2 linked regions of the Homo sapiens genome follow. The protein of the gene in region 1 purifies or fractionates together with the protein of each later gene. This does not show direct contact. Each region holds a gene or a part of one and is shown on either strand. Other genes may lie near its edges.

What was found.
Region 2: the proteins of TMPRSS4 (region 1) and TFRC purify together in Homo sapiens (affinity purification with mass spectrometry, with the first as the bait; one large-scale study listed by BioGRID). This does not show direct contact.

The regions. Positions count from the first base shown.
Region 1 is NC_000011.10:118,118,578-118,122,077, forward strand, and holds the end of TMPRSS4 (transmembrane protease serine 4), read left to right. Parts: 3' UTR 1-3,313; downstream 3,314-3,500. UniProt on the Homo sapiens protein: Plasma membrane-anchored serine protease that directly induces processing of pro-uPA/PLAU into the active form through proteolytic activity.
Region 2 is NC_000003.12:196,061,591-196,065,090, reverse strand, and holds part of TFRC (transferrin receptor protein 1), read left to right. Parts: intron 1-662; coding exon 663-782; intron 783-2,151; coding exon 2,152-2,237; intron 2,238-2,445; coding exon 2,446-2,509; intron 2,510-3,500. UniProt on the Homo sapiens protein: Cellular uptake of iron occurs via receptor-mediated endocytosis of ligand-occupied transferrin receptor into specialized endosomes. Endosomal acidification leads to iron release.

The DNA.
Region 1 (3,500 bases):
AAGAGTTAGGGAGACCAGATCTGCTGAGTGGCAGCAAGAGTGAGCTGCAGATTACAGAAACCAGGGTGAGCAAGTTTGAGTCCCACACAGGGCCTTCTCCCTTTGCCTCTTTCCCTCCCTCCCTGCCTGTGATAATCAGCCAGGAGCCAGGGATAACCTATGACTTGGGAAAGAGATGAGTTAGGCAGTCAAGGGTGACATTCAATCAGGGATCCACAAGTGGCTGGAAAGAAATGCTGGTCCTGTGTCCTAACTTTTTCCGCCTGGAGAGCCCTCAGTGTGGCTTCTTACATTTAAAAAACAAAAAGGATCAGCTGCCAGGTGTGAGGCAGTCCCCAAGCTGAGTTGTGAGGATGTAAGCATGAATAAGTCCCTGCACTCAAAATGGTCAAAGAATTAAACCCCATGGACTTTTTTGGCATCTGTATGAAAGCTTGGGTTTTCTGAGGACTGTCTTGCTATAGTTAAGTCAGATCCTAGATGAAATATACTTGTTCATACTGTACTAGGTTCTTAGGAAACAACAGAATTCCTCAAATGCCAAAAACAAAGAAAATAGAAACCCAGAAAACAAAACAAAATAAAACAAAACCATCAGAACTGTGAGTGGAAACTAAGGTGATGATCTGGGAGCAATACACTAAAATCTTGGGTCGAGACCTATATGAAGGCTGGCAGTGGAGCTAAACCTGGACACACTGAAGACAAGGGAGCTGAACCAGGGCTCCTACATGAAGCAGGGATAACTGATGGCAGTAAATGTGGTCTCAAATTGCAGATGGTCTGGAGGAAAATTTCCCAAATTTAGAGCCTCAGGATTCCCAAAGATCCTCCAAATATGAGCTCACAATCAAAGATCAGAGACGTTGAAAAATAAAAAACACCTTAAGTGGGCAGCATAAAAAACAGCTAATTTAGAACCCCAAAGGCTTCAGATGTCAGAATATTAGAGACTTATGATAATAAGCAATATTTGCAGAGTATTTGTATGTGCCAGACACTATTGTAAGTGCTTCATCATGTACTGATTCATTTAATACTCACAGAAATCTGTGAGATGGGTATTATTCTTATCCTCACTCTATGGATTAAAAAAACTAAGGCACAAAGTGGTTAAGCTCCTTGCCTGAGATTATAGACTGTAAGTTGAACGTGAGCACTTGGAATACAGAGTTCATGCTGTAAACTACCACACTATAGGGCCTCCAATATGATAATTTATAAAATATTTGAATAAAAAATGAATACTAGTTCCACATTTTAAAATCATGTTTAACTGTGGTCAAATGCACATAACACAAGTTGCCATCTTCACCATTTTTAGGTGTATAGTTCAGTGGTGTTATGTACATTCACACTATTGTGCAGTCATCACCACCATCCATCTCCAGAACAGAAACTCAGTACCCATCAAACAACTCTCCATTTCCCCCTCCTCCCAATCTCTGGCAACCACCATTGTGCTTTCAGTCTCTGTGAACTGGATTACTCTGGGTACCTCATTTAAGTGAAGTCATGCAGTATTGGTCTTTTTGTACTTGTTTTATTTCACTTCACATTGTGTCTTCAAGTTTCACCCATGTTGTAGCATGTGTCAGAATTTCTTCCCTTTTTAGACTAAATAATATTCTATTGTTTATACGAACATTCAGGTTACTTCTATCTTTTGGCTATTGTGAATTATGCTGCTGTGAACATGGGTGTACAAGTATCTCTTTGAGGCCCTGCTTTCAATTCTCTTGGGTATATTCCCAGAAGTGGAATTGCTGGATCATATGGTAATTCTATTTTGAATTTTTTGAGGAACTGATATATTGCTTTCCATAGAGACTGCACCATTTTACATTCCCATCAACAGTTTGCAGGAGTTACTATTTCTCCATATCCCCCCTAACACTTGCTATTTTCTGTTAAAAATGGATATCTTAATAATCAAGCAAAAATAACAGGCAGATTTGAAAAAGAACTGAATACAGCTTTTAGAAATAAAAACTATAATTATAAAAATAAAAAACTAAGTGGATGGGGTAAATAACAATTAAAACACCAATTAAGAGAGAACAAATGAACTGGAAGATAAATTGAAGAAGTGACTAGGCTTAACAGCAGAGAGAGATAAGGAGATTAAAAATATGAAAACAAGGCCAGGAGCAATGAAGCCTAGAATGGTAAATTCTAACATATCCAGAATCCCAGAAAGAGAGAATCAAGACAATGAGAGAGAGACAGTACCAAAGAGATAAGAGCTGAGAATGTTCCAGAATTGATAAAAGGTGTGAATCCACAGAACATACACCACCATAGTGTACACGCATACAACCAAGGTGGAAAAATTAGAATAAATCCACACCTATGTACATTATAATGAAACTGCAGAACACCAAAGACAAAAAGAAACTCCTTATAGCAGCAGAGAGAAAACCCAGACCACCCACAGTACCACAAATCTACCACAATTAGACTGACAACAGGCTTTCCCACAGCAATAAAGGAGCTAGAAGTCAGTGGAAGTATATCTCCAGCATGCCAAAAGATAACAATCAATCAGGGATTGTGAACCCTACAAAACTATCTTTCAAGAATAAAGGCATTTTCAAGAAAACAAAAACAGACTTTACCATCAACAAACCTTCTCTAAAAGAATATATAAAGCATTTACTTTAGGAAGAAGGAAAATGATCCTAAAAGGAAGAACCAAGAAGCAAGTAGCAATAGTGAGGCAATTGTGAAAATGTAGGTAAGTCTAAACACACTCTGTCTACTTCTTCTTCTTCTTCTTCTTCTTCTTCTTCTTATTTTGAGACTGAGTCTTGCCCTGTCACCCAGACTGGAGTGCAGTGGCAGGATCTTGGCTCACTGCTATCTCCACCTCCCAGGTTCAAGTGATTCTTCTGCCTCAGCCTCCCGAGTAGCTGGGATTACATGCACATGCCACCATATCCGGCTAATTTTTGAATTTTTAGTAGAGATGGGGTTTCACTGTGTTGGCCAGGCCGGTCTCAAACTCCCGACCTCAAGTGATCCCCCCGCCTCGGCCTCCCAAAGTGCTGGGATTACAGGCGTGTCTACATATTATTAAAATAACAATAATATTTATTTTGTGGGTTAATTTTTTTTGAAACAGATATTGAATTTATTGGTTGGCTATGAGTAGAAAAATACATCAGTAAAGAAAAAAGACCCTGTATATAAATATAATACTAGCTAGTTAAAATTTGACCAAGAAGTTTCCATTGTGGGTTAATTTTTAAAGGCCTAACTGAAATATGGAGTAACCACAGCATGCAGCATGTAAATTAAAGGGGATAGCTGGAGTTAAAATATTCTGAAGTTCTTAAATTGTCCAAAAGGAGGGTTAAATATTAATGTTATGTTACATAAAATGTTTGTACTATGTTCTAGATGGTTAGTTAAAAGAGTAATCACCAAAAGAATGGAAATAAAAGTGTGTCACTTCCAAAACAATTGAAAGTAGCAATTGATGAATAAAAAACAAATAC
Region 2 (3,500 bases), on another chromosome or scaffold:
GGGTTTCTCCATGTTGGTCAGGCTCCATGAGGTCAGAGCTCCTGACCTCAGGTGATCTGCCTCCCTCAGCCTCCCAAAGTGCTGGGATTACAGGCATGAGCCACCGCGCCCAGCCTATGTGTCAGTTTTATTGGGAGGTAATAAGGCCCTAGGAAATTCTTGTTAAAAATTGACCATTATGACTAGAAAATCTATTCTAAGTTATTGACTAGACCAGTGATAAGCAAATTTCTTAAGGGGGCAGATAATAAACCTTTTGCCAGGCTATACAGTCTCTCTTTTAGCTGTTCAACTCTGTGGGAGCAAGAAAACAGGCACAGACTGTGCGTAGTGAATGGGCATGCGGGCTGTAGTTTGCCAGTCCCTGGAGTTAACTTTAAATGCAATCAAACAGCCAACACTTACTAAGAAATAAGTCCTTGGACTTAAGTAGTCAGTAAATTTAATTAGTAGTGTAGGAAAAAAGTAGCTCTACTAGTAAGGTAAAATTAATATTCTCATGTGAATTTTTAATTCCCAGAGTTTTTAGTCAGATTTGAAGTAAGGCTCTTTTATCCTTAATACATATACTGTGCTTTTACCTTTCTACTGATGTGCTAATTCTAGAAAAGTTTAGAAGCTGATTATATAAGTTCTTTCTTCCTCTTTTTTCTTTTTTAAAGATCACTATGTTGTAGTTGGGGCCCAGAGAGATGCATGGGGCCCTGGAGCTGCAAAATCCGGTGTAGGCACAGCTCTCCTATTGAAACTTGCCCAGATGTTCTCAGATATGGTCTTAAAAGGTAGAGTACAAATTTTGATTCTTTTGAATATTGGTGCACTGCATACAGTTCTAGATGTTATACTGTGCTTTGCTCACTTTGCCTGCATTCCTGTGGTTCTCATGCTAGACTCTAGTTCTTAAATACAAGGCAGATTGTCTTTTGTTGTAGCTGCCTTTTCCTTTGAAACAGCTTTCCATAAAGTGTCTTAACTGTGCTAGAAATCACCAGTTTCTTTGAGACAGTGGAGTTACTGAGCCCTAGTGCTTAGTGTGGTGGATCCAGAGTGATAAGGTGGATCATAGTCCCTAAGCAATCTATTTGAAAGCAGTAGCATACCTCTCTACTCATGTACTGAGGCCTAACAGCTATTGAAATTTTGTTCTGTTTATTCATTTATTCATTTTTTGAGACAGAGTTTCACTCTGTTGCCCAGGCTGGAGTGCAGTGGTGTGATCTCACTTAGCTCACTGCAACCTCTGCCTCCCGACTTCAAGCAATTCTCCTGCCTCAGCCTCCTGAGTAGCTGGGATTACAGGCACCCACAACCACACCCGGCCAATTTTTGTATTTTTACTAGAGACAGGGTTTCGCCATGTTGGCCAGGCTAGTCTCCTGACCTCAAGTGATTCACCCGCCTCAGCCTCCCAAAATGCTGCTAGTGAGCCACCGTGCCCTGCCTCTTTTGTTTATTTTTGAGCCTTTCTGTCCTACTTTCCACTCTTTCACACTCCTACCCACCCACACATTCAAAATCACGTCACATTCTTGAATCTTTGGGTCTTAGGGCAAACTGCAATGCTTAACTTTAATACAGAGTACATTAATGGAGAAAAAGATACAGTGAGGGAAGTGGGAGGGATGGAGGGCAGTGTGATACATGTAACCTCAAAAGGTGCTGTCACAAATATAGTTTCTCTGCAAACTCTTCTTGTAACTTAAATTTGTGAATTTTTATTTTATTTTAGAATTATTTTTTTAAAAATCCAATGTTTGGATTTACCTCTGAAGATTTTTCTCAAGATGTGCATCATCATGCTTACACTGTTTTCAATGATCTCTGGGTCCAGAAGTTAAGGAACTCCAAGAATGAAATTGTGAAAGGGTGACTACTGGCCCCTGCTATGTACTCAAAATCTTATTTGCAGATCTCCTATCTTGCTCTTTGTAGGTTACTTTAAAAAAAATTATTCCTATTCTTTTATTCTTTTACCTGGGGTCTCAAAAAAAGATTTTGTTAGTTTTTTTTTTCTTTTTTGGCTCAGAAAAAAAAGATTTTGGAATCTGCTATCTTGGAATTAGACCTTCTGATTCATCTTAAGTGGGATACCTTCCATCCTTGTCTGTGTATAACCTTTCCTCAGGTAAAGCTAACTTTTTTCTCTTTCAGATGGGTTTCAGCCCAGCAGAAGCATTATCTTTGCCAGTTGGAGTGCTGGAGACTTTGGATCGGTTGGTGCCACTGAATGGCTAGAGGTATTCTTTATCATCCCTTCCCATATTGGACACGAGCTTGTGGGCTTAGGCTGTTGTCCAGAAGTGATGTTTTTATAGGTTTGATTTTACCACTTTTGCCTTTGCGTTTAGTCTCAGTAGAGTCCAGAATTGAAAATGAATCCCTAATGCTACTGTATGTGATAAATAAACAGATTTATACTTATTAGTGTTTTCCCTTCTCTTCTAGGGATACCTTTCGTCCCTGCATTTAAAGGCTTTCACTTATATTAATCTGGATAAAGCGGTTCTTGGTAAGTATCCCTTTCATTAGCTGTGTATGAATTCAGGTAAACTTTTTTGAGATGGAGTTTTGCTCTTGTCGCCCAGGCTGGAGTGCAATGGCACGATCTCGGCTCACTGCAACCTCTGTCTCCCAGATTCAAGCGATTCTCCTGCCTTAGCCTCCTGAGTAGCTGGGATTACAGGTGCTCACTACCACACCCAGCTAATTTTTTGTATTTTTAGTAGAGACAGGGCTTCACTATGTTGGCCAGGATGGTCTCGAACTCCTGACCTCAGGCGATCTGCCTGCCTCGGCCTGGGATTACAGATGTGGGCCACTGTGCCTGGCCAGATAAACTACTTTGAAGTGGAAGAAAGCTTTTTTTTTTTTTTGAGACAGGGTCTCACTGTATTGCCCAGGCTAGAGTGCAGTGGCACAATCTTGGCTCACTGCAGCCTTGACCTCCTGGGCTCAGGTGATCCTCCCACTTCAGCCACCTGGCTAATTTTTTTTGTAGAGATGGGGTTTTGCCATGTTGCCCAGGCTGGTGTCAAACTCCTGAGTTCAAGCATTCTATGTCAGCTGCCCAAAATGCTGCGGTTACAGGCATGAGCCATTGCCCTCAGCCTGTATCTTAACCTTCCTTTAAATAGTCTGTCAAGTTACACAGTGAGCACAATTGCTTGTCTAGAACAGTGGGTAGTTCTCAGTGTGGCCCCCAGATGAGTAGCATTAGGAACTGTTACGAATGCAAACTGTCATGTCTACCCCAGACCTTTGAGTCAGAAATGGGAGTGTTGGTCTAAAAACTGGGCTTTTTGGGCTGGGCGCAGTGGTGCACGCCTGTAATCCCAGCACTTGGGAGGCCAAGGCAGGCGGATCACCTGAGGTCAGGAGTTCGAGACCAGCCTGGCCAACATGGTGAAACCCCGTCTCTACTAAAAATACCAAAATTAGCCGGGTGTGGTGGCGAGTACCTGTAATCCCAGCTACTCAGGAGGCTGAGGTAGGAGAATCAC